Linked DNA regions of Homo sapiens: all the other regions are reported to be linked to region 7. The links are microRNA targets in miRTarBase. Many come from high-throughput screens and were not tested one by one. Region 7 holds a microRNA gene; each other region holds the end of a gene's coding sequence.

The links. Region 7 holds the annotated microRNA hsa-miR-30c-5p (UGUAAACAUCCUACACUCUCAGC, at 2,606-2,628, shown strand). A microRNA usually pairs through its seed, bases 2 to 8, with sites in the 3' UTR of a target mRNA and lowers its output. Matches are read on the target gene's strand: a 7mer-m8 pairs with bases 2 to 8, a 7mer-A1 pairs with bases 2 to 7 and ends in A, and an 8mer does both.
Region 1: miRTarBase lists GTF3C3 as a target of hsa-miR-30c-5p. Seed matches in the 3' UTR shown: 7mer-m8 at 2,895-2,901.
Region 2: the mRNA of DDB1 is a reported target of hsa-miR-30c-5p. The part of its 3' UTR that is shown has no 7-base or 8-base seed match.
Region 3: miRTarBase lists PHTF2 as a target of hsa-miR-30c-5p. Seed matches in the 3' UTR shown: 8mer at 1,138-1,145 and 7mer-m8 at 1,882-1,888.
Region 4: the mRNA of OTP is a reported target of hsa-miR-30c-5p. The part of its 3' UTR that is shown has no 7-base or 8-base seed match.
Region 5: the mRNA of JDP2 is a reported target of hsa-miR-30c-5p. Seed matches in the 3' UTR shown: 8mer at 2,617-2,624.
Region 6: the mRNA of RTN4 is a reported target of hsa-miR-30c-5p. The part of its 3' UTR that is shown has no 7-base or 8-base seed match.

Annotation. Positions count from the first base shown.
Region 1 is chr2:196,760,888-196,765,084 of GRCh38, forward strand. It overlaps GTF3C3 (general transcription factor IIIC subunit 3), which reads right to left. Exons shown (of 18, transcript NM_012086.5): 18 at 2,148-3,798. The coding sequence ends at 3,676. Among named protein-coding and RNA genes, the nearest start is that of GTF3C3, 37 kb to the right of the region's middle.
Region 2 is chr11:61,296,230-61,300,430 of GRCh38, reverse strand. It overlaps DDB1 (damage specific DNA binding protein 1), which reads left to right. Exons shown (of 27, transcript NM_001923.5): 27 at 212-980. The coding sequence ends at 295. Among named protein-coding and RNA genes, the nearest start is that of VWCE, 3.0 kb to the right of the region's middle. RefSeq lists an enhancer at 1-309.
Region 3 is chr7:77,953,855-77,958,077 of GRCh38, forward strand. It overlaps PHTF2 (putative homeodomain transcription factor 2), which reads left to right. Exons shown (of 19, transcript NM_001395272.1): 18 at 1-40; 19 at 1,004-3,371. The coding sequence ends at 1,024. Among named protein-coding and RNA genes, the nearest start is that of DDX3ILA1, 34 kb to the right of the region's middle.
Region 4 is chr5:77,626,959-77,631,181 of GRCh38, forward strand. OTP (orthopedia homeobox) reads right to left here. Exons shown (of 3, transcript NM_032109.3): 3 at 1,754-3,836. The coding sequence ends at 3,306. It overlaps OTP-AS1 (OTP antisense RNA 1), which reads left to right and starts at 2,713. Exons shown (of 2, transcript NR_198942.1): 1 at 2,713-2,803. RefSeq lists enhancers at 1,379-1,944, 3,702-3,751 and a silencer at 3,092-3,531.
Region 5 is chr14:75,468,515-75,472,737 of GRCh38, reverse strand. JDP2 (Jun dimerization protein 2) reads right to left here. Exons shown (of 4, transcript NM_001135048.2): 4 at 1-3,448. The coding sequence ends at 3,263. Among named protein-coding and RNA genes, the nearest start is that of JDP2, 43 kb to the right of the region's middle.
Region 6 is chr2:54,970,046-54,974,268 of GRCh38, reverse strand. It overlaps RTN4 (reticulon 4), which reads left to right. Exons shown (of 9, transcript NM_020532.5): 7 at 402-448; 8 at 648-706; 9 at 1,071-2,080. The coding sequence ends at 1,113. It overlaps EML6 (EMAP like 6), which reads right to left. Exons shown (of 42, transcript NM_001039753.4): 42 at 2,244-4,198. The coding sequence ends at 4,174. Among named protein-coding and RNA genes, the nearest start is that of RTN4, 78 kb to the left of the region's middle.
Region 7 is chr1:40,754,695-40,758,917 of GRCh38, forward strand. MIR30C1 (microRNA 30c-1) reads left to right here and starts at 2,590; the gene lies at 2,590-2,678. NFYC (nuclear transcription factor Y subunit gamma) reads left to right here. Exons shown (of 10, transcript NM_014223.5): 6 at 3,427-3,600.

The DNA.
Region 1 (4,197 bases), not on the chromosome of region 7:
ATTGAAGAGGTCAGGTCCTAAGCATAAACTGCCCAATTCTCCTTGCTTCAAGGTGCCTACAAATAAATGCCCCCCTTTCTCCTGCTGAAAACCTTGGTATGGATGTTTGGCCTTACCATGCTGGGCAAGCAGACCCCAGTTCAGTTTAATAACATTGTTGAGATTTTTCATTAATTCATTAGTATTGGTATTTATTATAACTTCTAGTTTCCCTCCATGCAAATTTGACCATGCCTTATATTGTCACCTAAGTCGTTAATGAACATGGTGGCATGTCATTTGCAGTTTCTCTCCAGTCTACATCAGTCTGTCAACATGCATTCTTTGAGTTCGGTCATTCTACCGGCTGAAGAACCAGCCACACTTTCCCATTCAATCCATAAGCATATCACAGCAGTCTTCCTCACAGACTCTGCTAAAACCCAGATACATAAAATGTAAGATAGTCCTCAGAACCACCAGTCTAGTACCAAGCAAAAAGAGTGTATCTCCTAAAAGATTGAAGTGGAAGTTATTATAGAATCAAGGATATCCTGATCAAAGAATCAAAGAATCTATCTGGATTCTAGAATGAATCCAAGGGTGAGAAGGCAGCTGGCCTTTTTGCTTGGAAAAAAAGAGTAAGTATCCTAAGGAACATCACTTCAAAGAACACACAGATGGCTGGAATCATGCCAGCACTAACATGCCCAAGTGGTTTCCAGAATCCACCTTTTGCCCACTTAAAAAATTCAGTTCATTTGGTCATTTTCTTCTGAGAATGCCTCAAAATTCTAATTTGCAGTTTCATAGCATAGCCATTAGTATAGGGACTATGGGCCTGGAGATGCAGTTCATTTCTAGTCCCCCCTTACTCATATCCTCACCCAATATCTTGGCCATTAACTCCTTTCCTACCCTGTTCAGTATTATGTTGGAGTATATATTCTTTCAATATGAACTATAGTATTATAATACTATTAGCTTTACAACACCACAGCAGGAACATTCCTCCTGTTCTTGCTCTGAATGATTTTGAAAAGCCTGTTTATTGTGGATTAGACTTCGTGACACTACTTGTAATTCAGCAACAAATTTTTATATTCATTTCTGTTTGCTTTATACTTTCTTCCTATGAAAATGGCTAGAAAGCAGTAATGCTAAATTAAAAGAAAGATGGAATGGTGGTCGATCAGGTCAAAATTTTTTGTATGTGCATTTAACAGAAAAACCCAAGCTGGTGTAAATATTAAAGTGGAAACTATAACAGAATCAAGGCTATCTCCTAGAACGAATCCAAGGGTAAGAAGGCAGCTGGCCTGAGGATAGAACTGAAAACTGGAAATCTCTGGGACTTCAGAGAGAACTCTCCTTCGCTCATCTTTACTTCTCTTAATGCAGACACCTCACTTTTTTTTTTTTTTTCAACAGAACGGGTTAACTGCTAGTTGGCCTCATTGTTCTGAAGTTCTGGCCCTACATGAACTATTTCAAGTCTGAAATTCCCAGGGAAGGCGGGAGGAAACTCCTGATTGGCCCAGGTTGGTTCAGGAGCAGACTCCCTCCTCGATCAACTGTGATCATGCAGGAGCAGCAGAGTCTCAGTGCATAAAACAGGTACCAGGACCCCACTGCTAAGGTGAGGATGGGAGGTAAGAGAATAGGAGCTTTTAAAAAGAGACCCCAAAAGATGTTTTTATACAGGGGCTTTGATGGGCTGAAGGCCTGGAAGACAGAAACACTGCCAATGTCTTTTTTCTTTCTAAAATAAACTTATGCTTGGCTGGGTGCAGTGGCTCACACCTGTAATCCCAGCACTTTGGGAGGCCGAGGCGGGCGAATTACGAGGTCAAGAGATCGAGACCATCTTGGCCAACATGGTGAAACCCTGTCTCTACTAAAAATACAAAAATTAGCTGGAGGTGGTGGCAGGCACCTGTAGTCCCAGCTACTCGGGAGGCTGAGGCAGGAGAATCGCTTGAACCTGGGAGGTGGAGGTAGCAGTGAGCAGAGATCATGCCACTGGACTCCAGCCTGGAGACAGAGTGAGACTCCGTCTCAAAAGAAAAAAAAAAAACAAACCTTATGCTTAATGTTTGTTGTTACTCTGAACTACAGCAACTGTGTTCTTCTGAAGGAAAATCTCTGAGCAAGGAGCAGCTTACTAGTGATCTTGAACATGCTATTTAATCTCTAGATACAAAGTGGTGATGACAATATCAATAATAACTACCTTGCAGTTCCCTGAGAGAATCAGAGATAACATATCCAAAGTGTTTAGCACCATACTTAGCATACAGTAGCAGAGTAAAAACTCAGCAAATGGAAGCTATGATTTTAAAAGCTAAACAAAACTATACAATATCAGCTGGTTTTTTTTTCCCTTAGGGAGACTTATTTCCTCCACGGCTATTTAGTAGACACTGGAGCCACAGTCCAGTGAGCTAATTTAAGAGAGAAACTCGGAGCACAGAATGCTCAGTTCCACAGAATTCCAACACACAAGTCTAACTTATTACTGTATCTCAGTTACCTCTACCATTACCTATAAATGGCATAAAGTAAAAATTAAGCATGTGAAACAGTTAACCTCAATTATAAAAATAAAATGCATTTAAATTATACACATGGAGTATACAATATATTTACTTATTGCATACAAATTCTGCTCAACTAGAAAGTTTTGTGTACAGTAGAAACAGTGGTAAGAATTTCTAATAAGTCCCAATTTTATTTCTTTGATCCTAAGCCTCTACTTGTTTCCCTCCCACAATTGGGCTGGGTGTTACTAACCCATGTGCACATTAATTACAGCATTTATTTTTCCCTAAAAAGTTGTTATTAAGCTAACAGTATATCATCTAAAAAGTACTGTTAACTTAAATTCAAGAACATATAATAAATAGTGGAGATGAGTAAACAAACAAAAAAAAAGTTTTTTACTTTATCAATCAGCAGTATGTCCTTTATTCCATACGTACTACTTGCCCAGTCTTATATTACTTGTGATCTTGAAATGGAAACCATGTCCTGTTATTGAACAAGCTCTTCTCTATTTTTTCATCAGAAAGCCACAAATATAGATAAAGCATTTTTTTATTTGCCTTGGAGCAATATATTTTGAATTAAGCCCAGCCTCCCATGTTTCAGTTTAGGTAGCTAAGATACATGCTGGTGAAAAGTAAAAAACTAAATTATTTGTCTTTCTGCCTACCACATAACTATTTTAAATAATTTTCTTAGGTGCTTAGTTATCATGGTCATGACATCATAAAGAGTCCCACTTTGTCTTTCCTTTAATAATAAGCAACCTCTGTTTATACGTATTTGAAAAACTGCCTCATGTGATATTGACAGAGCTATAGTATTAAATACAAAGATGAATAAATGGTGTGAGTGAAAAATAGTGTATTCGACTCCAAGCTAGCTCAAAGGCTTACACGTCCATTTCAACATTGGGAACAATTCACTATAGAATGTGAAAGGAAAATGACAGACCAATATACAAATTTTTGTAGGAATAATTTTGCATATATACCACAAGATCATTATCACATATTAAAAATAAATACACTGTTTGTTAGGTAATTCTGAAATTGTCATTTCTATTTTGGAGTTACAAATAATAAGCCCTGAGACAGAAGACACTGGTCCTCACACAGCAGCTGCCATTGCTCTGTTCTCAGTTGCGGTGCTTTATATAGAACAATAGGTATACAAAAGCGTTTGAGCCATTCCGGTATTCCCACTGCTCTGATAGATGAGAGACAAGTTGTAGGCAATATCTCTTCGTAAGTCTAACTGGTCAAGTTCTATACCCTAGGGAGAAAAAGATACCTTTATGTTTAATATTTCCAACTGTCAACCGGGACAATTTTATGGCAAATTAATAGTTTTATAAGTGTAAGTAAGTTTTCAAAAGGTATTAAAGCTCATGTACTAAAAAAAAATTATAAAACTATGCATATACCTTGGATCAATGCTGATTCAGTTAACAGCATCATCAAATATTTTAACAGTAATTTAAAGTCTCACCCACAAGCTACGGCAGAATAAACGCCAGATGAATTTTGGATTTTAGAGTTAAAAAAGAAACCATAAAAGAAAAAATACAATGGGATAATATAATCTTGGATAGGAAAGGTCCTTTTTATGATAGCAAAAGTAGCAACTATAAAGGGAAAGATTGGTATGACTTCATAAAAAACTTCTCTGTGT
Region 2 (4,201 bases), not on the chromosome of region 7:
GAAGAGGGAGAATCTTGAAGAGGGAGAAATAGACCAGGTGGTGTCCTTGCTGACCTGTGCCACCCAGGGGGAGGCGTGGGTTTCTGGTGAGTCCTTCCTCTGCCATGACAATGGTGGAGTCTTGTGCCTCCTTCACTGGGGGCATTCCCTTCCCCACCTGTGGGAGAGCACCCTCTTGGTCCTCACAGCCCCGCCCATCTTCTCATTGCAGTATGACGATGGCAGCGGTATGAAGCGAGAGGCCACTGCAGACGACCTCATCAAGGTTGTGGAGGAGCTAACTCGGATCCATTAGCCAAGGGCAGGGGGCCCCTTTGCTGACCCTCCCCAAAGGCTTTGCCCTGCTGCCCTCCCCCTCCTCTCCACCATCGTCTTCTTGGCCATGGGAGGCCTTTCCCTAAGCCAGCTGCCCCCAGAGCCACAGTTCCCCTATGTGGAAGTGGGGCGGGCTTCATAGAGACTTGGGAATGAGCTGAAGGTGAAACATTTTCTCCCTGGATTTTTACCAGTCTCACATGATTCCAGCCATCACCTTAGACCACCAAGCCTTGATTGGTGTTGCCAGTTGTCCTCCTTCCGGGGAAGGATTTTGCAGTTCTTTGGCTGAAAGGAAGCTGTGCGTGTGTGTGTGTGTATGTGTGTGTGTGTATGTGTATCTCACACTCATGCATTGTCCTCTTTTTATTTAGATTGGCAGTGTAGGGAGTTGTGGGTAGTGGGGAAGAGGGTTAGGAGGGTTTCATTGTCTGTGAAGTGAGACCTTCCTTTTACTTTTCTTCTATTGCCTCTGAGAGCATCAGGCCTAGAGGCCTGACTGCCAAGCCATGGGTAGCCTGGGTGTAAAACCTGGAGATGGTGGATGATCCCCACGCCACAGCCCTTTTGTCTCTGCAAACTGCCTTCTTCGGAAAGAAGAAGGTGGGAGGATGTGAATTGTTAGTTTCTGAGTTTTACCAAATAAAGTAGAATATAAGAAGAAAGGTACATTTGTTTTTGCTTTTATTCACCCTGCCCAGCTATCCAGGACTCCAGGTTAACTATTCTTAATTTACTGCGAACTTAGGCAGTATCCTCCCTTTTATGGCAGTTGTTGCATTCACTTGCCCTTGCTGTTAGAACAGCTCTTTTCAAGTAGTGAAAGTGAAGACATCTATACCTCTTCTTCATCACGTGATTGTTTGATGGGATCCCAAGGATGATGGGCTTAGAAATTCACTGGTCTTTTTGGTTGTCCTTGACACCATTTGATTCTTACTTGCCTCTGTCGGTAACCTGCTGGGCCTGGGGGTTGCCTGGACTGCCTTTCCTGGTTTTATAGCCAGCTCTGTGTGCAGTGTCCAGTCATCTAGCCCCCAGGCCACCTAGTAGCTCCTCATGTACCTCCCAGCTGCTTGTTGCCACATGCCCTTTGGACCCTCATTTTGTTTCCTCTGATCTAATCAAGTGAACCTTTGGTGCTTTTGGTTTGAGAATACAGCAGGAGTAGGGCACATATGGGATTCACTCTTCTGTCTGGCAAACAAAGCCTGTCTTCTTTTCAGCTTGGTGGGCCAATGTCTGGGACCACGTTTCTCTCAGTGATCCGGTGGGAAGAAAGGCTGCTCTGTCCCCACGGTGGAGTAGGGTTGATACTAGGCATATTGGTGGCTCCTTTAAGACCAGCCTTTGATACAGTGTCAGGAAAATTGTGGTTGCAAGTTCAAATTGTGGTTTTGAGAGATTCTAGCTTAAAAAGAAAAGAGCTAAGAAGCATCCCTGGTTTGAGGGTCTTCTGGAGGAAGTTTCCTTCCCTGAAGGAATTCCTTGTGTTTTATTACCTTTTTTTCCCCTTACTCTTCTGAGAGTTCTGCGGGTGGGGGATAAGGGTCTTAACAAAAAATAATCAGCCTCTCAAAAACCACAGGTTGAACTGGAAACCCAACACTGTGATTTGAATTCTAGAAGTCATAGTTTGAATTTGAAAGGGCCTGCCCCCCTGCCAGAGGCCAGCTTTAATGAGGCAGGCAAGCAACAGTCTCCACATTGTGATTATTTTAAAAATTTAATCCTAGATGGGAGCGCTGACTATAAGGTGTCATAATCAGAAAGACAGAATGTGGTGGGATGATCATTCTGGGGCACTTTTGTGGTCTGACCTGCAGCTGCTGAGACCTGCTATTGAGAAGAAGGTTGTCAATGACTTGTCTTGAATTTGGAAGCCTGTGGAGTCCTTGCTATGTTTTGCTGATTTTTTGTTTTGTACACTCTTGGGTGTATTCACTCGGGATTGAATTCCAACTTTGGAAACTGATGTTCTGCTGCCATACTCCCACATCCCCTCTTAAACACCATTAATCACCTCTCTAGGGGTGAAAGGTTGTCTTTGGAGCGTGGCTGTAGCCAACTGGAACAGCTCCATTCCATGTAGGCGCTGATGAACTAGCATCACTCCAGGCCTCTGCACGAAGGGACCTTTGGGAGAATAATAGAAACACTGACTCATCACATGACCATTTGAAGGGATCACAAGCCAGAGGCTGTCATTCTGCAGCCAACAACAACTTGGATCCTCCACCCTCGGTGGAGGGTCCCTTTTGTTACTGAGAAACCACAAGCCACAGAAGTGGGAAGAAACACAGGAACTGCAATCAAGGGATATGCCCGAACTAGTCTTGAACAATAGTAAGTTAGAGACTCTGTGTCCAAACTGAGAAACCTCAGGGTCAAACAAAAAGACAAGAAAAACAAAAACCAAACTAAAGGGGAAAATGTTGATAGGAGCAAGGTGAATGCCATAAGGTCACAGAAACTTTATGGGGAAATGAAAGAAATGCCAGGGGCAGTTTGGACGTTGTTTGGAGATTCACTAACAGGAATTTACTGTGTACTAAGTATCCTAAATTCCTTAGGGTAGATGTGGGTTTTCTTCAAGCACAAAGTTGCATCTCAGCTATTCCAGCTGCTCATTGGCCAATATGGAGCAAACTCTGCCAGGGAGTGAGTTTTACAGGGTGAGGTGGAGCAGGTGGGGCTCCATAATGTAGCTAAGAACAGAGGTAGCTGAGGTGTGCTGGAGTGTGAGAAGATGGCATGAAATATGGAAGCCATGTGGACACTTGTTCTGTGTATGCCTGTTGAAAATTTGGGTAGCTCCCCTAGGGCCAGGAAAAAAGAGCACCTATTTGACATTGGTGGTTTAGGGGCAGTGGAGGGGGAAAGTGTAACCTTCAGATGTTTGGGGCAAGAGAGAAAGATGCCTTAGGATTCCGAGGGTCCTTGGGACTCAGAATGGATATGACGGAAATTGCATTCATCTTATGTTACAGAATATTTTGGCTCCTACTTGTTGAGAATATGTTGACAAGAAAATGGGCCAAAACAAACAAGGTGAGATACGGCCTCAAGGTGAATGTCTGCAAAAATGTAGCCACAAGCCGGGTGCGGTGGCTCACGCCTGTAATCCCAGCACTTTGGGAGGCTGACGTGGGTGGATCATTTGAGGTCAGGAGTTCAAGACCAGCCTGGTCAACATGGTGAAACCCCGTCCCTACTAAAAATACAAAAATTACCTGGGCATGGTGATGTGCGCCTGTAGTCCCAGCTACTCGGGAGGCTGAGGAAGGGGAATTGCTTGAACCCGGGAGATGGAGGTTGCAGTGAGCCGAAATCGTGCCACTGCATTCCAGCCTGGGCGACAGAGAAAGACTCCATCTAAAAAAAAAAAAAAAAAAATGGGGCCACACAGCTTCAGGTAGGGAGACCACTTGGCAGCTTGTGTTTAAATAACATAAAAGCACAACAAAAAATGCCTGCTTTTTTTCGTTCTTTTTTTTTTTTGAGATGGAGCCTTGCTCTGTCGCCCAGGCTGGAGTGCAATGGTGCAATCTTGGCTCACTGCAACCTCTGCCTCCTGGGTTCAAGTGATTCTCCTGCCTCAACCTGAGTAGCTGGGAATACAGGCGCCCGCCACCATGCCCAGCTAATTTTTGTATTTTTAGTAGAGATGGGGCGTCACCATATTGGCTAGGCTGGTTCTGGAACTCCTGACCTCAGGTGATCCGCCCACCTCAGCCTCCCAAAGTGCTGGGATTACAGGTGTGAGCCACCGCGCCCGGCCACCTGTGGTTTTTCTTTACTGCAAACTCAATGTGTCATAATTAACATCATGGGGTTGCCAAAAACGTAATATTAGGGTGCATTAGTAAAAGTATGGTGTCTGCAG
Region 3 (4,223 bases), not on the chromosome of region 7:
TTCTGGTGTTATCAGTGACTTGCTTGGATTTAATTTAAAGGTAAGAGGTTGCAAGTACTTTTTATTTCTTAGTTTCCTGTTGCATTTTTGTTGCGCCCATTTTACCCTCACATGCACAGTAATGCGGTCATTTTGGTAAGATTGCAATTATTGAACATTTCACATTTAATTTCAAAGAATTATATGTATTTATGTTTTATAATACTGCAGGAATTTCTAACTTGGAACAGTATTTATTATAAATAGAAGTCTTGTGTAGGATAAGTAGAAGTATTTGGTTTTTTTTATTTTTTATTTTGAGATGGAGTCTGCTCTGTTGCCCAGGCTGGTGTGCAGTTGCGCGACCTTGGCTCACTGCAACCTCTGCCTCCCGGGTTCAAGGATTTCTCCTGCCTCAGCCTCCCAAGTAGCTGGGACTACAGGTGTGCACCACCACGCCTGGCCAATTTTTGTATTTTTAGTAGAGACAGTGTTTCACCATGTTAGCCAGGCTGGTCTCGAACTCCTGACCTCAAGTGATACACCCACCTTGGCCTCCCAGAGTGCTGGGATTGCAGGTGTGAGCCACCGCGCCTAGCAAGAAGTATTTATTTTTACTAATAAAGCTTTAATTTAGGTGATAAAAAAGAAAAAAGCCTTATTTCTATTTTTGGCCAAAAGTTGTATTATTTATCTGTATAGCAATGCATACATCTTCCAATATATGCACAACTAACTGTTAGGAAGGTGTAAGATAATCATATTAAACAAGTACTGTGTATATATATATATATATATATATATATATATATAGCCACTTCTCAAGAGAAAGCAATAGAAATCTGATTTTCACATTTTTGTTTGTGTTTAAGGTGAGTTCTTCTTAAAAGGATAAAGGAGTTAAAATATTAGAAACTGCACTTGTTTGTGAATGAAATTTGAATTTAAAAATGGTGTTATATGATATAATTTAAGCTTTGATATTAAAACTGGCTTGTCACCACTTCTATTTTTTTTTTTCTAGCTATGGAAGATTAAGTCATGACAATTCAAAGAAAAGAAGATGTAGCCTCTTTTCCAGAATAAGAGTACTGACTAAGCTGCCTGAAAGCTTGTCACTGATTCTTTGCTTCAGGAGTCTCAGCTAGGGAGTTGAAGTGTTTACATCAGACTGTCTTGTGCAATTCTTATATTTATTTTACTGGTTCACTTTTTTTTACATTTATTTTAGTCTTTATATTTTTATTTTTAAGCATTGATGTACTTAGTTGTTGAAAGGGTGATGAAACTGATATCCAGATACTTGAGATCCTGGTAATTGGTCATAAATAATTGGCAAAATAACAAATTGTGAAAATAGAAGCCATTGCTCAGCACCGTTTCTCCATCAATGCCGTGAACTTGCCTTACTTGAGGAAAAATTCTTTAACTTTGGAATATTGCATTGAACTCAGCTATACACATAAAACATTTTCTTTGGTAAATCAAGATCCAGTCAGGGTTTCTCTTGAATTATTTTGGAACAATGCCAGGATCCAAACTGATTAAGTTACAGTTTAAGCACCCTTCAGTATTAATATATACGGTATTATATAACAGGTCAACAAGTGCTCTTTGATGATAAAACTTGTAATAGAGCAATAATTGTAAATGGTTACCATACTGTAAGATATTTTGATAAAAATTAACTAGTAATACTTGTATTTATTTGAAACACTGGGCTGTTTGCACAGCTCCAACTGTGCATGCTCAAAATGTGCACTTTTTAAAATTGTTACTTTTAATGCGTATCTTTATATGGGATCTGTTATAGTATACTAGGGCATGATATGGTATCCTTTTGAGTGAGGTATATACTCATCTCACAAGTGAAGTGCCTACTGATATTACTAAAGTACATTATGTTTACTCAAGTAAATAATTTTCTCCCCATGGTACACTCTAGTGTAGGCTATTCATACCACACTGAAATGAACAACTGAAGAATAAGGCTAAGAACCAATAAAATATTTCTCTAATTGCTAGTTGTAAAACTGTATCCAAATTTTCAGAAAAGACAGCTTCAGCTTGCAAATTCTATCCTCTAAACTTATCTGGTGCATTCTCCCCACCCCACCCCCATTATATAAGGGCTATTTTAGATGCTTTTAACCTCCCCAACAAATAATTTGCCAAGTGTCCAATGAGAACTTATCATGTTGGTGTGTTAGGTAAATCGGGCAAATATGATAGTGTCTTACATTGGGCCTTGATTTTAAGTTGTTATATTTGTACAATCGAGTATTTTAGAAATTACATGAAACATGAAACAGTTTTTGCAATTTTTTTTAAACTGGGCATCTGGTTTCTAAAAATTTATTTGAAACAATCTAGAATTTTCTTGGTGCAAAGTGTATCATGTGGAATATCCTCATATTTTTACCATATTTTAAGAACTTTAAGACGATTAATTGTAAATAATTTATTTGATTGGTGCAGTTCTAATCCCTAAATCATAATCTTAAAATCAGGAATGTGTGGAGAACAGAGCCATGTCATATCACTTTGCTCTTACCATTCCTTTTGATCAGCCTCAATTCAGCCTCATTGTGTAGTATGTTTTTTCTTTCTATGAAAAACAACAGAAAGCATTTCATTTTATTTGCCTATGTTCAAATATGTTTAATAATGACCAAAGTGCATTCTGAGTTTTTTCAAGGAATGTAATACTGGAGCTTTAAGAACATACTTAGTTTCTCATGTGAAAACTTAGGCTTTGTCTGATGTTTTTCCTTCCTCTATTGTCTAATGTTGAGGTTGTTTTTAGGAATTATGTTTTATAAACTTTTTCAATATAAGGTACATGCCTATACAGAACTTAACATTTTGCACAGAATATATCAAATATATTTTGAGAAAAAAAGTACGGCATGAGTTCTGTTAGGAATAAAAGATGAAACTATTGTATCTCACAAAAAATCTTATTTCAGAATGGAAATATTTTTGAGAAAAGTAGCTGAGTATACTGGTTTAAGAAAATGCTTGTTTTAGATTGAGGTTAACTTAGAGTTGGGAGTTGATTTATTAAGTACAGTATACCTCTCAACAGTTTATAAATAATATGTTGAATTATGTCAGTGTGGGCAGCAGTAGAATACTAAAAGGAAAATGTCATGTTAAGCAATTTCAGAACATTAACTGAACTATTTTCAAAGCAGAAAAATTGACATTGCTGCCTTTAAGAATACCATGAATGTAAGAAATTGAAAGAAATTGTAAAATATCACATAATATAGAAATGGCAGTTCAAAGAGAATTGTGGCAGATGTTGTGTGTGAACTGTTGTTTCTTTGCCACATGTGTTGTATTTGAAAGTTTTACAGTAAGTTTAAAATAAAACATTCTGTGACTGACGGTGTTTTTTTTTTTAATTTTCAGGTCATATACATTTCTATGGTAATTTTGTGTTTACTTAACATAAAATTTAGTTAGATTTGGGGGGAGTGAAAATAAATTTTTTATAACTTTCCAACATTTTAGATTTTGTTATGATTCTTAGAACATGAAAGAATAATACACAGGTTTTTCATCACCAAAATGATATTATATCATTAATGTTTGTTTGCTTCTTTGTTTTTGAATACAGCAAACTGGCTGTGGCCTGAAATATTAAAGCTCATTGTGAAAAGATAGTGGTTTTTTTGGTTTGTTTGTTTGTTTTGAGACGGAGTCTCACACTGTCACCTGGGCTGGAGTGCAATGGCACAATCTTGGCTTACTGCAACCTCTGCCTCCCAGGTTCACACCATTCTCCTGCCTCAGCCTCCTGAGTAGCTGGGATTACAGGCGCCCACCACCACGCCCTGCTAATTTTTTGTGTTTTTAGTAGAGATGGGGTTTCTCTATGTTGGCCAGACTGGTCTCAAACTCCTGATCTCATGATCTGCCTGCCTCGGCCTCCCAAAGTGCTGGGCTTATAGGCGTGAGCCACTGTGCCCAGCCGATAGTGGTGTTTTTAAACAAATGATTTTGCCACATGAATTTAGCATGAGAGATTATGATCAACAGTAGGATGGTTAAACATTCTAATATTTCTGTTATCTGATTGGTCCAAGTGTTCACTGGGCTTAAATTAATCTAGGACTATTAATTCAAGTGCACTTTCAAACTTACTTTAAGCTTACAAATGGCTCTTTTAATGAATCTCCCTTCATACTTCAAAATAGCAATATGACTGGCACTTCTTAATTGTTTGCTGTATCACT
Region 4 (4,223 bases), not on the chromosome of region 7:
CCACTACATTATGAAATATAAGTATCTTTGAAAGCATCTATCACTTGAGTTGATTTGCAACTTCTCATCAGTGTTCTGAGTTGGCCCATTTTTTTCCAATGAAAGATCCCATTTCCCTTGCCTTTGAGAAATACAATTTTTAAAGATTCCATTTAGCATCCTTTATTGCATTCCTACATCATAAAGTTATGCTTTATAGCAGCATAAAAAGCTGTAAAATTGGCATCCTTGTAAACAACATTCCATGAGCACTGGTGAAGCAATCCGTAATTTGTACTGATCTCTTAAATGTGACTTGAGATTACAGTATCCACGATTTCAATTTTTTTTAAAAAAAAGCACTAACATAAAACAAGCGAGAATATGATGAAATGCAAAAACAAGGAAAAGTATTTTTCATTAACTCATATTTTAGAAATTTGGTGGTTGTGTGCTGCTGAATTCTTGGATGAGTTCTCAAATACAGAAATGTTCCGTTCTTGTATGAAATTCAAAATGAGCATGTTTTCTCTTCTTTAATATTTTAATGTACTAAAAATAGTCTTTAGGAAAGTGTATAACTGAAATATTCTGTGAACCCACCCACCAGTTTACCTCTAATTAAAATTCCTAAGGTAACATGAACAGATTTACTTTATCATTAAAAATCATAGCTTTTTGTTCTCATCTCTGAGGAGATTCCATTGTGTTCTCTTAGTTGAGTAACGATTACAACAGCTCCTCAAATTCACATGTAGCCCAGCTGTATTGTATTTTAGCAGGAGGGTATTTTTTAGGGTTTACACTCTGAGGCAACCAAATGAGAAGTCTTCCCGTGGGAAAAGGGGTGCCCTCTCAATGCCTATAATGACCATTAAATTTCAAACCACAAGATTGATTTCGGTTAGCCTTCCCAAGGAAGCCTGTGATATCGATTTGCCTCCAAGTTTAAAACACACCGCAAACCTTCCCCTCGGCCGACCGAAGAAACGGCATTTTTTTCCTACTCCTTTGGGGCAGTCCCCTGAGCACGTGCCTGAAGTCGAGGTTAGTACGCAGCCAGCAGGGACCCTGACAGGAAACCAGAGCAGCCCCGGGGTTGGGGGAGCCCTGGTAGGTGCTGGTCGTCCCGGACACGCCTCTTCTGGAGAAGCGCGTTTGTCCCTTACTTGGGAGGTCCCGGGTATCTGAAGCGGATCCCGGGTCTGGGGACATGAAGGGGCGCCGTGGCCTTAGGGAAGGCCCCAAAGAGGCCTAGGCCCCGGAGGAGGCAAGAGCCGCGGCCTAGCTTCCACCGCGTACCTGGGGCCAGACACGGCTGGGGCGGCGCCGGAGAGCAGAACTCCAGGCTCTGAAGGCCGAGGGTGCGAATTGTGGTCCCCTCCCACCCACGGCCTCCCCATCACGCGCACGCAGCCCGCGAGGGGCGCCCTCCGCGCCACTGCCCCAGGGACACCGTTCATCTGAGGAACTCTCGCGCCCTGCGTTTCGTGCCGACAGCGACGCTCGGAGTCCCACCTGGGAAACCTGGGTTGGCCCGGAAACCTCGGGAGGCTCAGAGCTTGCGTGAGGCGCTCGCGGCGCCCCAGCATGCCGCCCCGTCGCGGAGACCTCACCTTGCAGCCCAGAAACCGAACCCAAGCCCACTGCAGGGCGAAGGGCCCACGCGTTCCAACTGGCGCGAATATAACCATTCCCAAGACCGGCCCCTCCCCTCCCCCCACGAGACCCCTCCCGCCGTTCAAGGTCACACCAAAACCCATCATTCTCTATATCACATACTGAAAATGATTTTATTTTATCCATTTACATTTAACTTGATATAAACTTGTCCGGAAAAGTCAAATAATATGCTTTATATTAGCTCAAACATTTATTAAGAAAACCGAATTCCATAAATAAACACAGACATTAAGTTAAAACATATCACAAATTGACCAGTATGTAACAAGAATGCTTTATCTACACAAAACATCCTATTTCACATATTTGTTCATTCTTAGAAAGCGCTTCTGTTCTCTGGGTTTGGATTTGACCAGCACATGCAGAAAGAGCTGATTGTGTTTCTCTGTACAAAGTTGCAGGGTTGTAGATGTCCGAGTGCCCCCATCGGCTGCCAGCAGGTGGCCGAGGGGCACGAGGGACGACAGGACCACCACAAAACAACCAAGGGCACAGAGCAGCGAGAAGACAGAAACAGAAAAGGAAGCAAACAAACCCCAGTCCTGAAGGATCCAGAAAAGAGATGTGGCTTTTGCTTTTACAAAAGAAAATTTTGCTTACACGTTTATTTTATTCTTCCTTATAAAGACTTATCAAAATGGGTCAGATCACCTCTTCCTCGTCACATGACTGCTTTAGTCTACTCCAGCCACCCAATCCACTGTCACGTTCCTCCTGAGAAGCCTTCCCTTCTACACTCTCACACAGTTGTGCTTAAGAAAATGAAAATAAGATAAAATAAAAATAAAAGCGTTATCTTGCAAGCCAAGAGAGGGCTGCACGGATGTGACTGGGTGGACTGGGCAAGGGTAGCGTGGTGGGAGAGGAAAGAAAGACAGGAGCTTGGAGAGTACAAGGATAAATCAAATCATATCAGTTGGGCCCTCAGATGAGGCGGTTGGTAGCAATGCTTGTCCTCCTTTAAGACAAAAATCCCTAACATTGTGCTGTCCCTTGAACACGTCCGTGTGTGACCTAGGTGCACCGTGTCTGTGCGCGCGCGTGTGTAGCGTCTGAGCGTGAGCGAGAGTGCGAGTGTGTGTGTTTCTGCCCACAAACCAGTCCATTGGTGTCTGATTTCAGATCCTGAGTCGACTCCCTGGTACGTAAAATGGCGGGAAGGATACTTTTTGCCGGGCGCGGGAGGAGGGTCGCGAAGTGTGGGGAAAGAGGGGACCGGAGGGGAGGCGGCGGGCGAGGGGGGTCGTAGGCGTCGCGTCGAAGGTGTGGGTGGGAACGCCGCCCGTCAGAAGGCCAGGAGGAGGGCGCGAGCACGGCCAGCGCAAGCAGGGAGGCCAGGGTGGCGGGAAGGGTGGGCTGAGGCGCTGGAGACCGAGCCGAGGGCGCAGCTGGGTGGGAAGGGAAGAGGGGCGGCCGGGAGACGGGGGACCGCGGGCGATCGAAATCAGGCGGAGGGGAGGCCTCGCGGGCTGGGGCTTGGGGTGAGCCCGAGCGAGTGGAGGAGAGAGGCGAGGACGAAACGAGACGGGGCGAAGGCCGGGGCGGGACGGGGCAGGGCGCCGGGGTCCGGGTGCGCGCCGGAAGGGCCTCGGGGCGGCCCCCGGGGCGGTGCTGGGGGCGGAGCGGGCCGGGGCGCGGCTGCATTAAGTGAAGCTCATAGAGACTGTGTGCTCTAGCGCCTTGCGGCGGAGGGAGGCGATGCTGGTGCCCCGCCACACGTCGCTGCTGTCCGGGGAGCTGCAGAGCTGGGGCGAACCGGAGACGTTGCTGGGGCCGGGGAGGGAGGCGGGCACCATGCCGGGGAAGGCGGGCTGGTAGAGGTGCGACTGCAGCCCCGCGCCGTTGGAACCCGCCAGGCTGTTGGACAGGCCCATGGAGTTGGGCGGCGGACCGGCCGCCAGGCTGCACTGGGACAGCGACTGCGCCATGGCCTGCTGCCTGCCCAGCGCCGGCGGCAGAGGCAGCTGTGACACGCCAGGCATGGCGGCCGCCGCCCAGCGGGTGTCGTTGGCGTGGAAAGAGCACAGGCTGTCGCCCATGGCGGCGGCAGCGGCGGCGGCAGCCGACGGGAACTGAGGCAGGCCTGGCGTGGGCAGCAGTGTGCCGGGCGCACGGAACACGTTGGTCGTCTTTTTGCGCTTCTTCCACTTGGCGCGTCGGTTCTGGAACCAGACCTGGAGCGGGCGGGGCGGGAGACAGACAGGGAGCTATTAGCCGGCCCGGCGGCTGGGGAGTTGGGGCTTGAGCCCCAGAAACCCGCCTCGGATACAGCCGCTCTGCCCTGGGAGGAACAAGTGCCGTAGGCCCGACAAGCCCCCATACCCAGCCGGAGACTGTGGCTCCCCACCAACTCCTGGCAACTGGCGCCCCCTGCACCCACCAAGCGCGGAGTCCTGCGCTCCTAAGAGCTCGTGCCCCGAAGAGTTTACGCACTGTGCAAACACACCAAATGTGTGCAGTCTTCACCACGCCCCTGCACATTCTGTGCACTGCACAGATTCACAGGTCTGCAGTCAGGCATGTGTCAAAGTTCGACCCACAGGTGTACAAATGAAGATAAA
Region 5 (4,223 bases), not on the chromosome of region 7:
ATCAATAACTACCGACACTAACAGAGGACAAAATAATTACCATTTTAGGGAGCTTTTATTTCACAAAACACTTTGTATATCCATTCCTTTTTTGATCTTGATAACTCCATAAAAAGACTTGGATTATTACTGTTCCCACTTCACAGATAAGAAAAATGAGGTTCACAGCTAGTCAATAGAAGATTACATCATGAACCCGTTTGCCTTTAAGGTGTGTCTTCTGTGAACACCCTTGGAGATGGTTTGCCTGAGACTTGGGAATTCTTAACATGTACTGTGAGCACAGGTGGGTCTGTGCCATCTCTCCCGGCTTCCTGCACAAGTTCCCTGGCAACTGAGGTCACACCACAAACACATTTTTCCTCTCATGGGGAGGCTCAGCCTCAGGTTTTATGCACCTGAAGTCAGACTGACAATAACATCTTGGCTCTGCCACCTAACACCTGTGACCTTGGGCAGGTTACCTCTTCTGTGTGCCTCGGTTTTCTCATCTGTAATGTTGGAACGCTAGCACCTACCCCCCAGTCAGGGTGCACAAAGCAGTTGAGGTCACACATGCACAGTGGCAGGTGCCCAGAAGAAACTCAAATGCTGGCTCTTGCAATGAAGCCTATAATTGTGACTTCTAGCCACAGGAGCAGCCAGTGGTCCTGGTGAGGAAGGCTCCGCACAGCACAAGTCACTGGTGTGGTGACTTTGGAAGACAGCCCACCTGCACAGGCTAAGGAGGCTCTATTTTGGAGATGCCAGCTCCCGGTGGCCAAGCACAGGACCAGGGAAGCCACAGCCAGTGGCACACGGCAGTCCTGTAAGAACATCCACTAGGTCACTGGAGGGACCCTGGTAAGTCCACTTCATTTTTCTCATGGCTTGAAAAATATCAAAGGATTACAGCGCGAGGGGTTCCTGATGCAGAACTGACACTGCCTCACCTGCATCGTCCGGACCGACAGCCTCAAGACCCCCGAGACAGAAGGCAACCCGCTGCCACAACCTTCTGCCACAGCTGACAGTGAGAGGACCAGGTCCTGTTTCTAGGGCGGGGTGCAGGGGAGTCCACACCAAGTGTGTTGGGTGGAGGGAAACTGAGAGGAGTGAGCGAGGGAGGGATCACAGGTGTGTTAATCACCATTCTCCACTTCTGCCCATCCCAGAAGGCCTCGTCCACAATTTGGGAAGCAACCCAGGTTCACTGCTGTTCTTGACACGAAGTCATCACCAGCAACTAGTTATCCTAAGTCCAGGGATGGAGGAGAAAGAACACATGATTAGAATGCAGGAGTCAAGTTTAGTTGGGTAAACTGTAGCCTTTGCAAGCTTCAGTATACAAGGAAGCTAAAAACACCTCTCCCGCCTTCCTCATGCGTGACATGCCTTGAGAACTGCCGAGTGCCAGGTACACAGCAGGCACTGAGTGAATGCCACTGAGCTGCTCCGGCCCTGGGTGGCAGGGATTCAGCTGTCGAGGTGAGGGGGCAGAGAAGCCATCCACACCCTTCCCTGGGTCAGACACACATTGACCAGGGTAGTTGGTTCACTCTGTGATCATGGGACAACCTGGAACTCTATCCAGCCTTCCCAGAAACTAAATCTATAACTGTGGCCTCATAAGCTTCCTATTCAACCATGAGGACAATCATAGTGGGTTGGTGACAGGAGGAGAGTCACAGGCCTCTGGAGGGAGAGTTCAAACACCAGCTCTATCCCTTGCTAGCTGGGTTACCTTGGATAAGTCGCTTACCTTCTCTGAGCCTCAGTTAAACCATCTGTAAAATGAGAAGAATCGTGCCTAGTTTGTGCTCTTGTGAGAAGGGAAGAGACTATGTCTGCTTGTCACAAAATAAGTCTTCAACAAATGGTGTCTGCGAGTTTAATTCCCTGGACCTCTAATTCGCCATCTGTGAATTGGGGACAAGTGCTGTTCCCTGGCAAGGCTGCCATGAAGACGAAATGAGACAACTTATGGAGCAAGCACAGGATTCACTCCTTACTGGAGGCCCCACAAGGGCAAGACTTAGGTCTGTTTCATCCTCCAGTGAATTCTCAGGGCCTGGCACACACAACAGGCCCTCAGAAAACATCTGCAGAGTGAGCGAACACTCTGACTGCTCTCAAAATAGTAACTGCAGGTGGCTTAATGTCTCTGAGCCTTAGCTTCCTCATCTGTGAAATAGGAGAGCTGTTGTGAAAATGAACAGGCCTATAGCAGAGGCTCCAAACAGTCTCCGACCCTGAGAGGGCCTTGCACCCATTCCCCAGGCAGACACCACGCAAGGCGGCTATGTAAGTAAGAGCAATGTTTACTGAGCGATACAGGACTGAGTACTATGAAGGGTTTACAAGGATGGAAATGCACCCCGCCCCCGCCCTGGCCACCCCCGACACCCAGAGACTACAGTACTTAGGAGTTACACACAACGGCCGTAACTGGTGGCTATCTGTTCATAACAAACAAACCATAGCATATTTATACTGTATCACATCGAGTGATTATAGAAATCCATATATATATTGCTTGTATAAAATCTTTTTTTTTGTAAAAAATATTAAAAAAAAAAAAAAAAAGGAAAGTATAAAAAACATGTGCAGTTGAAAGCCCTGCCAGGACAGCCAGTCTGTAAACATTCGGTGAGTATGTGCTTTGGAAGGGCGCCCGCGCCTCAGTGCCCACAGCAAACTCCAGCAGGGCTGGCGAGGGTGCGCCCGGCTGCCGCCTCCTGGGCAGGGCCGCGCTGGACCGAGGTGGGTGGGGGCATCAGGGCCCCGCAGCACGCCCCTCTCCAGCTTCGCATCAGGGCGAGGGGCAGGGCTGGGGGCAGGTGGGTTGCAGTTTCATTCTGAGTTCCATCCTCAGCCGCGTTTTGGTTGCAACTCATGGCTTTTCCTGGCTGTTCGGAGGTTCCTTGGATGGGTGCCCTGGTGAAGAGGCCAGAGAAGAGCCCAGGGCTGCCTCGTTGGGCGTCTCCCTGGCCTCGGTGCCTCTGTCCTGCCTCCTTCAAGTGGGGCCCCAGGCAGGACAACCCTACCCGAGGGTCAACTTTGGTCTCAGCGCTTGGTCCCTCTGGGTTTCCTCAGCCCGCTCTTCCTCCTGGGTGGCTGATCTGAGTTTCACAAAAAAGCTCGGCTGATGCTGGCTGTGCTGAACCTCATTGTACAGTTTTTCATGCACCAAAGGAAGGGCCATCTGGGGCCCCCCTCCTCCTCTCTCTTCGTCACTTTTCCTTCTCCTCTTCCTCCTCCTCCACCTCCTCCCAGCCCATGGTCACTTCTTCTCGAGCTGCTCGAGCAGTGGGTTGCCTTCTGACTCGGGGGTCTTGACACTGTCGGTCCGGACGATGCAGGTGGGGCGGTGTCGGTTCAGCATCAGGATGAGCTGCTGCCGCTCCTGCTTCAGCTCCTCAATCTGGGTCTTCAGCTCTGCGTTCATGAGTTCCAGCCGCTCGGATTCCTGTATACCAACACAGAAGCACGCTGTGAGTTTCACGGGGACTGGCTCTGGGGAGAGGCTCTGCCTGTGGTTAGGCACAGGGCACGCTGGGCTGGCACTGGCCTGTTTTCTGCAGGAAGAAGCACAGACCCTGCTACTGAGCCCCTGGCTAACTGACTTTCTGCAGGCAGTGCCTGCCACAGCGGTGACACTGGCCTGTGTCATGTCCAGGTTATATTCTAGGGCCAGCCAGACTCACGTCCCACCTCTCTCCCCTCCCTCAATCCACCCCAGCTTCAGTGACCACCTTGCTGTTGCTCAAATATGCCAAATACTCTGCCGCCTCAGGGCCTTTGCACAAGAAAGAAAGGGTGGGCAAAGAAAGGAGGCCAGGTGGACCTAGAGCAGGTCTACGGAGCAAGCATGGGGGGGCCCAAGAGGGGACCCAGATGGCAGTGTAACGGCAACGTGCTTTGATGTGTGACAGACACATGTGGGAGATATCTTGGCCGGTGGGATCAGTGAGTGTAGTGTAGTCATGTCATTCCTCCTAAAACATGTGCTTCCTAGCTATTAGTCTATAATTATTTCAATAGCCTCTTCCTTATCCCTATAATCTGGAAGCTTTGCCCACAGACAGGGAATCAGCAGTCATCCTGCTGGATCCCAAATGAGGTTTCCAATAGACCTTGAGTGAGATTTCCAGGGAACTTCCGGCTCAGCTGGAGAGGTTCCAGGGGAAGGAAGGAATGTTGACGATTTGATTCGGGAGGTGGCGAGGGTTACATGTCCATCG
Region 6 (4,223 bases), not on the chromosome of region 7:
AAATAAGTTGGTGATACTGCTTCCCGGTTTATTGAAATGCTACCTTAGTTGCTGAAGACAGCTCCTACTAACAAACAGTGATAAACCAGATAAAGGGTGGCTTTATATGATGGTGCAGTCATAAATCTAACCAGGGATACCTTTATTTTATGAAATCTCACTGTGATATGATTTGAAGCTAGAAATGGTTCCTAGCTCTAATAACTGCAGCCTCACACAGTTCATTCATTCCTCTGGAGTGGCTCCTCAACAGCAGATGCATCCAGAGATCCTTATGTTTTTATTCATTCATTAGGAACACTGCTTGGTTATCTTGAGTTGCCAGTTTAATAGTTTTTTGAGTGTTTATTCCTCCCAAATCATTCCGTTCTTTTTGAAAAGTTGTATATTTCCCTTTTCAGCTCTCATTTCACTCTTCAGTGTTCCTGTTATTTATGAACGGCATCAGGTAATTTCCTAACTAACTGCTGACTTCAGAATAGAGCACTCACTCTATTACATGGGATTTACGGATGTATTAGTGCCCATTTTCAATGTCTTACAAAAATGAGAAGTGTGATGGTTTCTTAAGCCTTTAGCTTGACACATAGTAGTGGTTAATAAGATTCTTTAGCAACGGTAATAATTCCTTTATACCTCTCTTTCAGGCACAGATAGATCATTATCTAGGACTTGCAAATAAGAATGTTAAAGATGCTATGGCTAAGTAAGTATTTAAAATCTGCAGTGTTTTTACTAGGATAAGGTGTGCTGGATTGTGAGAACAGTATTTTCATATTGCAGGCATAATGAGTAACAAATCTCTATCAGACCTTAAGTGTGACTTCAGAGTTGCCAAAAGATTGTTTTTCTAACATTTGGACCATTCGTTTCTGGGTTTATTATGTGTTTAAGGCTTTGTTTAAATCTAATTCATGAGGCCAAGGTGGCAAAATTATAGCTTAGAATTAGGCAGCTTTAAGGATTTCATTTATTGTATTAGCTGAATAACATACAAGTAGTTCTTGGAAGATGGTATTTTAAGCAGCAGCAAACAAAACTGATATTTACATTGACTTTTTCATTTTCAGAATCCAAGCAAAAATCCCTGGATTGAAGCGCAAAGCTGAATGAAAACGCCCAAAATAATTAGTAGGAGTTCATCTTTAAAGGGGATATTCATTTGATTATACGGGGGAGGGTCAGGGAAGAACGAACCTTGACGTTGCAGTGCAGTTTCACAGATCGTTGTTAGATCTTTATTTTTAGCCATGCACTGTTGTGAGGAAAAATTACCTGTCTTGACTGCCATGTGTTCATCATCTTAAGTATTGTAAGCTGCTATGTATGGATTTAAACCGTAATCATATCTTTTTCCTATCTATCTGAGGCACTGGTGGAATAAAAAACCTGTATATTTTACTTTGTTGCAGATAGTCTTGCCGCATCTTGGCAAGTTGCAGAGATGGTGGAGCTAGAAAAAAAAAAAAAAAAGCCCTTTTCAGTTTGTGCACTGTGTATGGTCCGTGTAGATTGATGCAGATTTTCTGAAATGAAATGTTTGTTTAGACGAGATCATACCGGTAAAGCAGGAATGACAAAGCTTGCTTTTCTGGTATGTTCTAGGTGTATTGTGACTTTTACTGTTATATTAATTGCCAATATAAGTAAATATAGATTATATATGTATAGTGTTTCACAAAGCTTAGACCTTTACCTTCCAGCCACCCCACAGTGCTTGATATTTCAGAGTCAGTCATTGGTTATACATGTGTAGTTCCAAAGCACATAAGCTAGAAGAAGAAATATTTCTAGGAGCACTACCATCTGTTTTCAACATGAAATGCCACACACATAGAACTCCAACATCAATTTCATTGCACAGACTGACTGTAGTTAATTTTGTCACAGAATCTATGGACTGAATCTAATGCTTCCAAAAATGTTGTTTGTTTGCAAATATCAAACATTGTTATGCAAGAAATTATTAATTACAAAATGAAGATTTATACCATTGTGGTTTAAGCTGTACTGAACTAAATCTGTGGAATGCATTGTGAACTGTAAAAGCAAAGTATCAATAAAGCTTATAGACTTAAAATATGCTTTGGTATTTTCATTTCATGAAATTGCAGCAGATTAAAAATGCACACAGTGGGTAAACTGCTTCAACCAGCGAATGGTAGCTTGTGCTTTTAGAAGGGTTTTTTTCAGCTGATGGTGCAGCTGTTTGTTTGTTTACTGTGGAAACAAAAGTCAACAAATGTGTTTACATAATCAAATTTTATTTGACACATAAAATGTTTAAGTGATGTGTTTTATACTTTGAAAATAAATTCATGCACCAATGTTTTAACTCACATATATCATACAGTGCAGGATTTATGAACATACATAAAATCAAAATCATACCATATAAACGTTTACAAATAAGTTTTTCATGACACACGGACACTATTGCTCTTTAAATATGGTTGTACATGTCATCATTAATCGATTCATTGTTCTTCCACATGGTTATTTCAATGCAAGATCCGATCAGCATGAAGAGTCTAGTACAAGATAGGCAGACATGGTTATCACTCTGCATCACCAGTCACATGGTTACAGAAAACAGAATTGGGACTGCATAGGGACTCTACTGCGGGCCCAACAACCTATTAGTGGATTGATGTAAGGCATTAGTAAATTGGCATATAAAAATAGCTTAATGAGTGATCTAATCCATTTAGAATGCTGAAGCACTTCTGTGGTAAATGTTAGTCTATTCTACAATTGAAAATGCCTCATTTTACCTTTTCTCTAAACTGACAAATGCAAGTAGCCAGTAACTGTAGGTCTAGAATTTTCGTTCACTGACCAGAAGGACTAATAGGCGTCTATGTGCTCAGAACCACCAGTCCCGCACCAACTCTCCTTTCAGTGAGCACTGTCAGCCACATCCTGTAGTCACTGGTCAGCTACATGGAAAGTGTGACTGAGGGGCTTACGGATGGCTTCTGGTAAAGATTGTCCAAGTCATATTCCGTCATACAACCAACTCCAAGGAACTCTAACTCACTTTATAATTTTGATTTACCAGCTATTCCTTGGGTTTACAATTTGTTCTGCAGATAATTTTTTTATAATCTGGACTTGACCTATATAGTTCGCCTGAAGCAATCAAATGAAGTCACCTCAACTCCACTCAGGGTGGTACACCAAGGTGCAGCCTTGGGTTACCCTCATTTATCTTAAGATTTAACGAGATAAGTCAGCTCATTCTCATAGACCTTCCTGAGCCTTTTTCCCCTTCCATTTTGTAGTAGAAGTTTGTTTAACTTGAATTCTATTTTGGATTTTGTGGGTTTGGCATGAAACACAATGAAAACCCATAATTCTACCCTGTCCCGAACTTCAATTCCTTTGCTGCTCACCTTCCCATAAGCAGGTAACCGATGTCTTTCATTTAGGAAGCCTTGGCGTGAACACAGGACAAGGGTGACACACTGAATCTGCTAAGGGTCCTGCAGCCCTCCTCAGCTTTGAGGTTTTAGCACCATATGGAGAAAGGAGAAATTGGTGGGAGGTGAGACAGCAGCCCACACAACTGGAAACTTTCAAAGGCACTTAATGGATATAAAACTCTGCAAATGAAACATTTAAAAATTAAGTTTCTCAACTCCTTTATACATGGCTCATTTGGTTTTGAAAGCTAAACTGGAGAACAGAGGCTAGCGATATTTCTAGTACTTCGGTGCATCTAACTTAGGCTGTCTTGTTCAACTTATTTGTAAAAATGAACATTCTTGAAGTATATAGAAACAATAGCAAAACATCTTTGTAAAAGTTTTGATGCAAATTAAAAGCTACATATTGGTTAGGGTAACCGAGGCTTCAAAATTCGTCAGCGGGCTACATTATCAGATAGGATTTCTTTGTCAATGTAGTTAGTATGTATACTGTTTAGTCTCAGGAACAGAGGCAAGCAGTCTTTAACATTTTAAAACTTGACCTTCCTTCGTGGCATCACGGTTTTGGAGAGTCCAGATTATGGGAGCAGTTGTGTAACTTCTGCAGCGTTTTGAGCTTGTGCATCCGGGGCAGCATGGTAGGCATTTCCCAACGGCTGGTGGCAAGGAGGCACCTCAGCATGGCCTCTGCAGTTGCTGGCTGGTAGCAGCAGCAGCAATAACATAAGAGGCTTCTGGCATTTTACAGACATCGCCACACAAATACACTGAAAAGGCAGATCAAACAGTCAT
Region 7 (4,223 bases):
ACTCTCATTGTGCTAACTCCTTGTTTTCTGTGGGCTGCCTGCTGAATACACTGGCTGGAGAGAAGGGTCACATCCTGTCAGTTCCTCCAAATTCCTCAGTGCTTCTGGGTCTCTCGGGGTGTCATACAGCTCCTTATTCCATCTTAGCCAGACTCAAAATGCTATGATCCATCTGATTTTAAAGTGTGTCTAGCTGAAACAGCTTCTTGTTGCTTGGATTTAGTTCTTTGTAGGTGTTCGAGGCATTGATTGGCATCGTATTCGGGACAGCTGCTGCCTGGCCTTTGAAAGGTTGAGATTGCTGAAAGCTGGCCTGAAATTCTAAGATAGCATTTTTAATCCTCTGTAGACATGAAGTTTTCCCAGGCTTCAAATTGGCTGGCACCTCCTAAAGTCCTTTAAAACGCCTACTCTCCAAAACCCACCCTTTCTGAAGGAGGCAGCAGTTCACTCTTGCTACTAAAGCGAATGTACTTTTTTCCAGTCAGGGCTGGTTGCACAACACTGTAGAGATGGCCCTAGGATGTGATGCTGCTCTTCTCTGGCACTGTTCGTCAGTCTCAGCTTCTGGAAAGATTCCAAGAGCAAGCCCTGTAGTTGGGGAGGCCACTGCTAAAGTTGAGCAAGTGCCCCATTCTGGATTGATCCAGTCATTAAAGCATTGTTCTGCCACTTGGGGCAACCTCCCACTGCTGGGAAAAGGAACTAGTCAGAAATACTGAATTGTGAGTCCAAGGCCCTGACTTCTCAAAGATACTTGAGAGTTTCGCTTGTTCTTCAGAGAAGCAAGTAAAGATTATTTGAAGGTAGGAGGTAGTTGAGGCCTGACTTCTGCCCCACTAAAGCTATTGAGTTGAAAGTTCCTGCCCATTGAAATGTCATTATCTTTTCACCCATTTCTTTAAACCAAGCATAATCATTTCCTTGCTGGCTTGACCTCCATTGGCAGAATGAGTCTTCATAATGCAGAAGAGCCTTAGATATGCCTTCTTCCATTCCAGTGATTTGAGAACAGTTGTGCCTTGTCCTAACAACACAAACCTAGGTGCCTCCACTTGATTCTCAGTGTCCTAGATACTGTCTAGTTCATAAACAGTTTAAGAGGATGTAGTAAGCAGCATAGGAGGAGCTCTTGTCCTGCTCTCACAGCTTTTGGCAAGAGATATTTTGGGTTCTGGAAGGGGTTTTTAAAGGGTTTGCTTTTTGTCTGACAAAAAGATCATATTCAATACTAGATCAGCTGTAGTTGGGGATAACTGGAGACTAAACAATCACAGGTCACGGCTAGAAAATGCAGGTGTCTCCCTGCTGCCTAGCTTCCTACACAGCTGGTTCTGAGGCTCTCATTCCTGTATACCCTCTCATTACCCAAGAGCTTTTCCAAGTTAGGTCTGGATTTCAGTGATTTGTGCTTTTTGTAAAATAATAAGGGAGATCTCAGTGGAACACAAGTACCTTGAACCTACTTCAATAGCTTTGCAAAGAGCAGTTGGCTTCTGTTTCTTGGCTGCAAAAGGTATCAGTATTTTAGCTTTGCCACAGCCAATACCTAGTTTCCAGGCTGACATTTATTTATAATGATGATAAGTTGGGGTTGAAATTGTTGTGGAAATTGAGACCTAGATGAAAATAAAAGGGAATCTCCTTTTCCTTCTGCCTTAGCATAATCATATTGAGGGTTAAAACTATTTGTGTCTGAAGCACAGACTATATCAACCTAAAAAGTCAGTTCATATATTAACTTAGAAACCCAGAATGTTACAGGTATCTCCCTAAGCTGGGTAGATGGCTGTCAAGTAACCATGTCATGCAGAGACCCATGTTTCTCAGGGGTAGATACTGGCAGTCCTAGTTTTAGTATCCTAGCCCCCAGACATCAGGCAAACAAAGGATACTCAGCTCTGTTCCACAGGGGACACTAGCTGCTTCCTCACACTGTGGCCACAGAGTCTTAGAGGTACCAAAAGAGAGTTTAGAGACTACTTTTTTCTATTGGTAACAGCTGTTGGGTTTAAGAGAATTTGTCATATCAGCAAGTTGGATTCAGAGAACTACTTTCCTGCCTCTAACTGTCTGCCTGTCTAAATCCATTCATCATTCATCACGCACTTACTGAGTGCCTACCTGGGAACGCGGGGGATAGCAGAGAGCAAGAGAGAGCTAGGCTTTGCCCTCATGGTGCTTAACATTTTAGTAGAACAGACAGTTAATTTGACATGCAAGTGCAAAAATGTATACTGTGAGGACAGTACTTTGGAAGCACAGTTGAGGGCACCTAACATAGTGTGGGGATGGGGTCAATACCAGCTTTGTAAATGTTACTTTGGGGAGTTGGAGGCAATCCACAGGGTCTGTGTACATCTAAGAAGTGTCTTTTCCTCTTTTCTGGAACGTGGCAAACTTTGCCCTGAATAAGGACATGAGTAAATTTAGCTAATATTTTTACTCAGCCAGCCCAAGTGGTTCTGTGTTTTTATTGTTTTTGTTGTCCCAGGCAGGGGCACCATGTGTCACACAGGTCACTCCGGATCAGACGCCGTTCTGTGTCAGTGGTCAGGGGCTGATCAACCCTGGACCCTGTGGGCTATAACCATGCTGTAGTGTGTGTAAACATCCTACACTCTCAGCTGTGAGCTCAAGGTGGCTGGGAGAGGGTTGTTTACTCCTTCTGCCATGGAAAACATCAGCTGAAGAAGGAACAGTCTCCACTCCGCAGATCGGACAGAATGCGACCTCCCTAATCAGCCAAGGCAGTACCCCAGCGGAGAGCTGTCCATCAGGCCCCCTGGGTTGCGCTTCTGTGGCTAAGTACAACCAGAACCAGATGTGACACTGGATAGACATGCCCTCAGTGACCACAGAGCTTTCAACAAGCTGTGAAAAGCTGGGTACTTGCCTACCAGTGCTCTCGATCCTGAAATTTCAGCTCAGGAAAAGCCCTGTTTCCCATTAACCTGTTCTGTCCCCCTTGAAGTGGTGGGGCTAAAACGAGAAGAGTGCTGCCTATTTGGGAGATTGGGACCAGGCCTGAGAGGCATGATGTTTGGGTAGCATCTTCCCAACACTTGCAATTAGCACTGTTCTCAGATCACAGGCCTTGACAGCATTTACTGACAAGCACTGCTGGTGTGTGGTTTTTAGTTACGGTACTTATTTGCCCGTTTGCAACTTATCATGCAATGGGTGATTATTTCGTACTTCAGAAATTGGCTGTATGTTTTGTGAAGCCTATAGGATCTGTTATTTTTAGTTTGATTTAGCATAACTGGTCTCTTTGAATTCCACTTTCCTTTGGCTTCAAATGTGGAGAGCTCAGCATTCAGCAGGCAACTGCACATAGCCTGTTTGGGGGAAGAGTGGAAATTCACTGTGGCGGCTGCTGAGTTGGTTCTTTTCCTCTTACCTGCCTCTCTTTCCACCCAACAGGAGGAGGTGCGCCAGTCTGTAACTCCTGCCGAGCCAGTCCAGTACTATTTCACGCTGGCTCAGCAACCCACCGCTGTCCAAGTCCAGGGCCAGCAGCAAGGCCAGCAGACCACCAGCTCCACGACCACCATCCAGCCTGGGCAGATCATCATCGCACAGCCTCAGCAGGGCCAGGTCTGTGAGCTGCTGAGGATGCCCATCCAGCAAGACAGTGCCCCTTAGGTTTTTGGATGGGCAGAGCTTGATGAGGGCAGAGAGGCAGCCAGATCATTATAGAGCACTGGATTTAAAGTCTGGAAACTGGAACTTTTCCCCAGATTCAGCTACTGGGGTGAGATGTTACCCTAATCTCTCTGGACCCTGTTTTTCTCAAAGGTCAAATGAGGAAAGTGTACTAGACAGTATGTTCTCCAGGATCCCTATTAGCTCAGAAATTTTAGAAGGGAAAAAAAAATGTCTGAAATGCCTTATGAAGAGTAGAGGTGCTAAAGTGAACTCCATGCCTGCTGTCTGTGTGTCTGTGTGAGAAGTGGAATTTGTGCCCTTAAAGGGAGAGATTAGGTATCATTGCCAAGTTGCATACTCCTTCTCCCCGTCATTTCTCTGTCCCATATTTGTGTTAAGTGACCTTCTCTTTTTACGATAGTAATCAGAGGACTCTTTCTCTCCCCAGTAGTAGTGTTAAGAGCAGTAGCATTCATGTTTGTTGGGGGTCATGTGAGGCTGCAGAGAACTCTGTACTATGAGCTCTGAATCCAAATTCTCTGTCAATCATTATTTATTCATCAAACACTGAG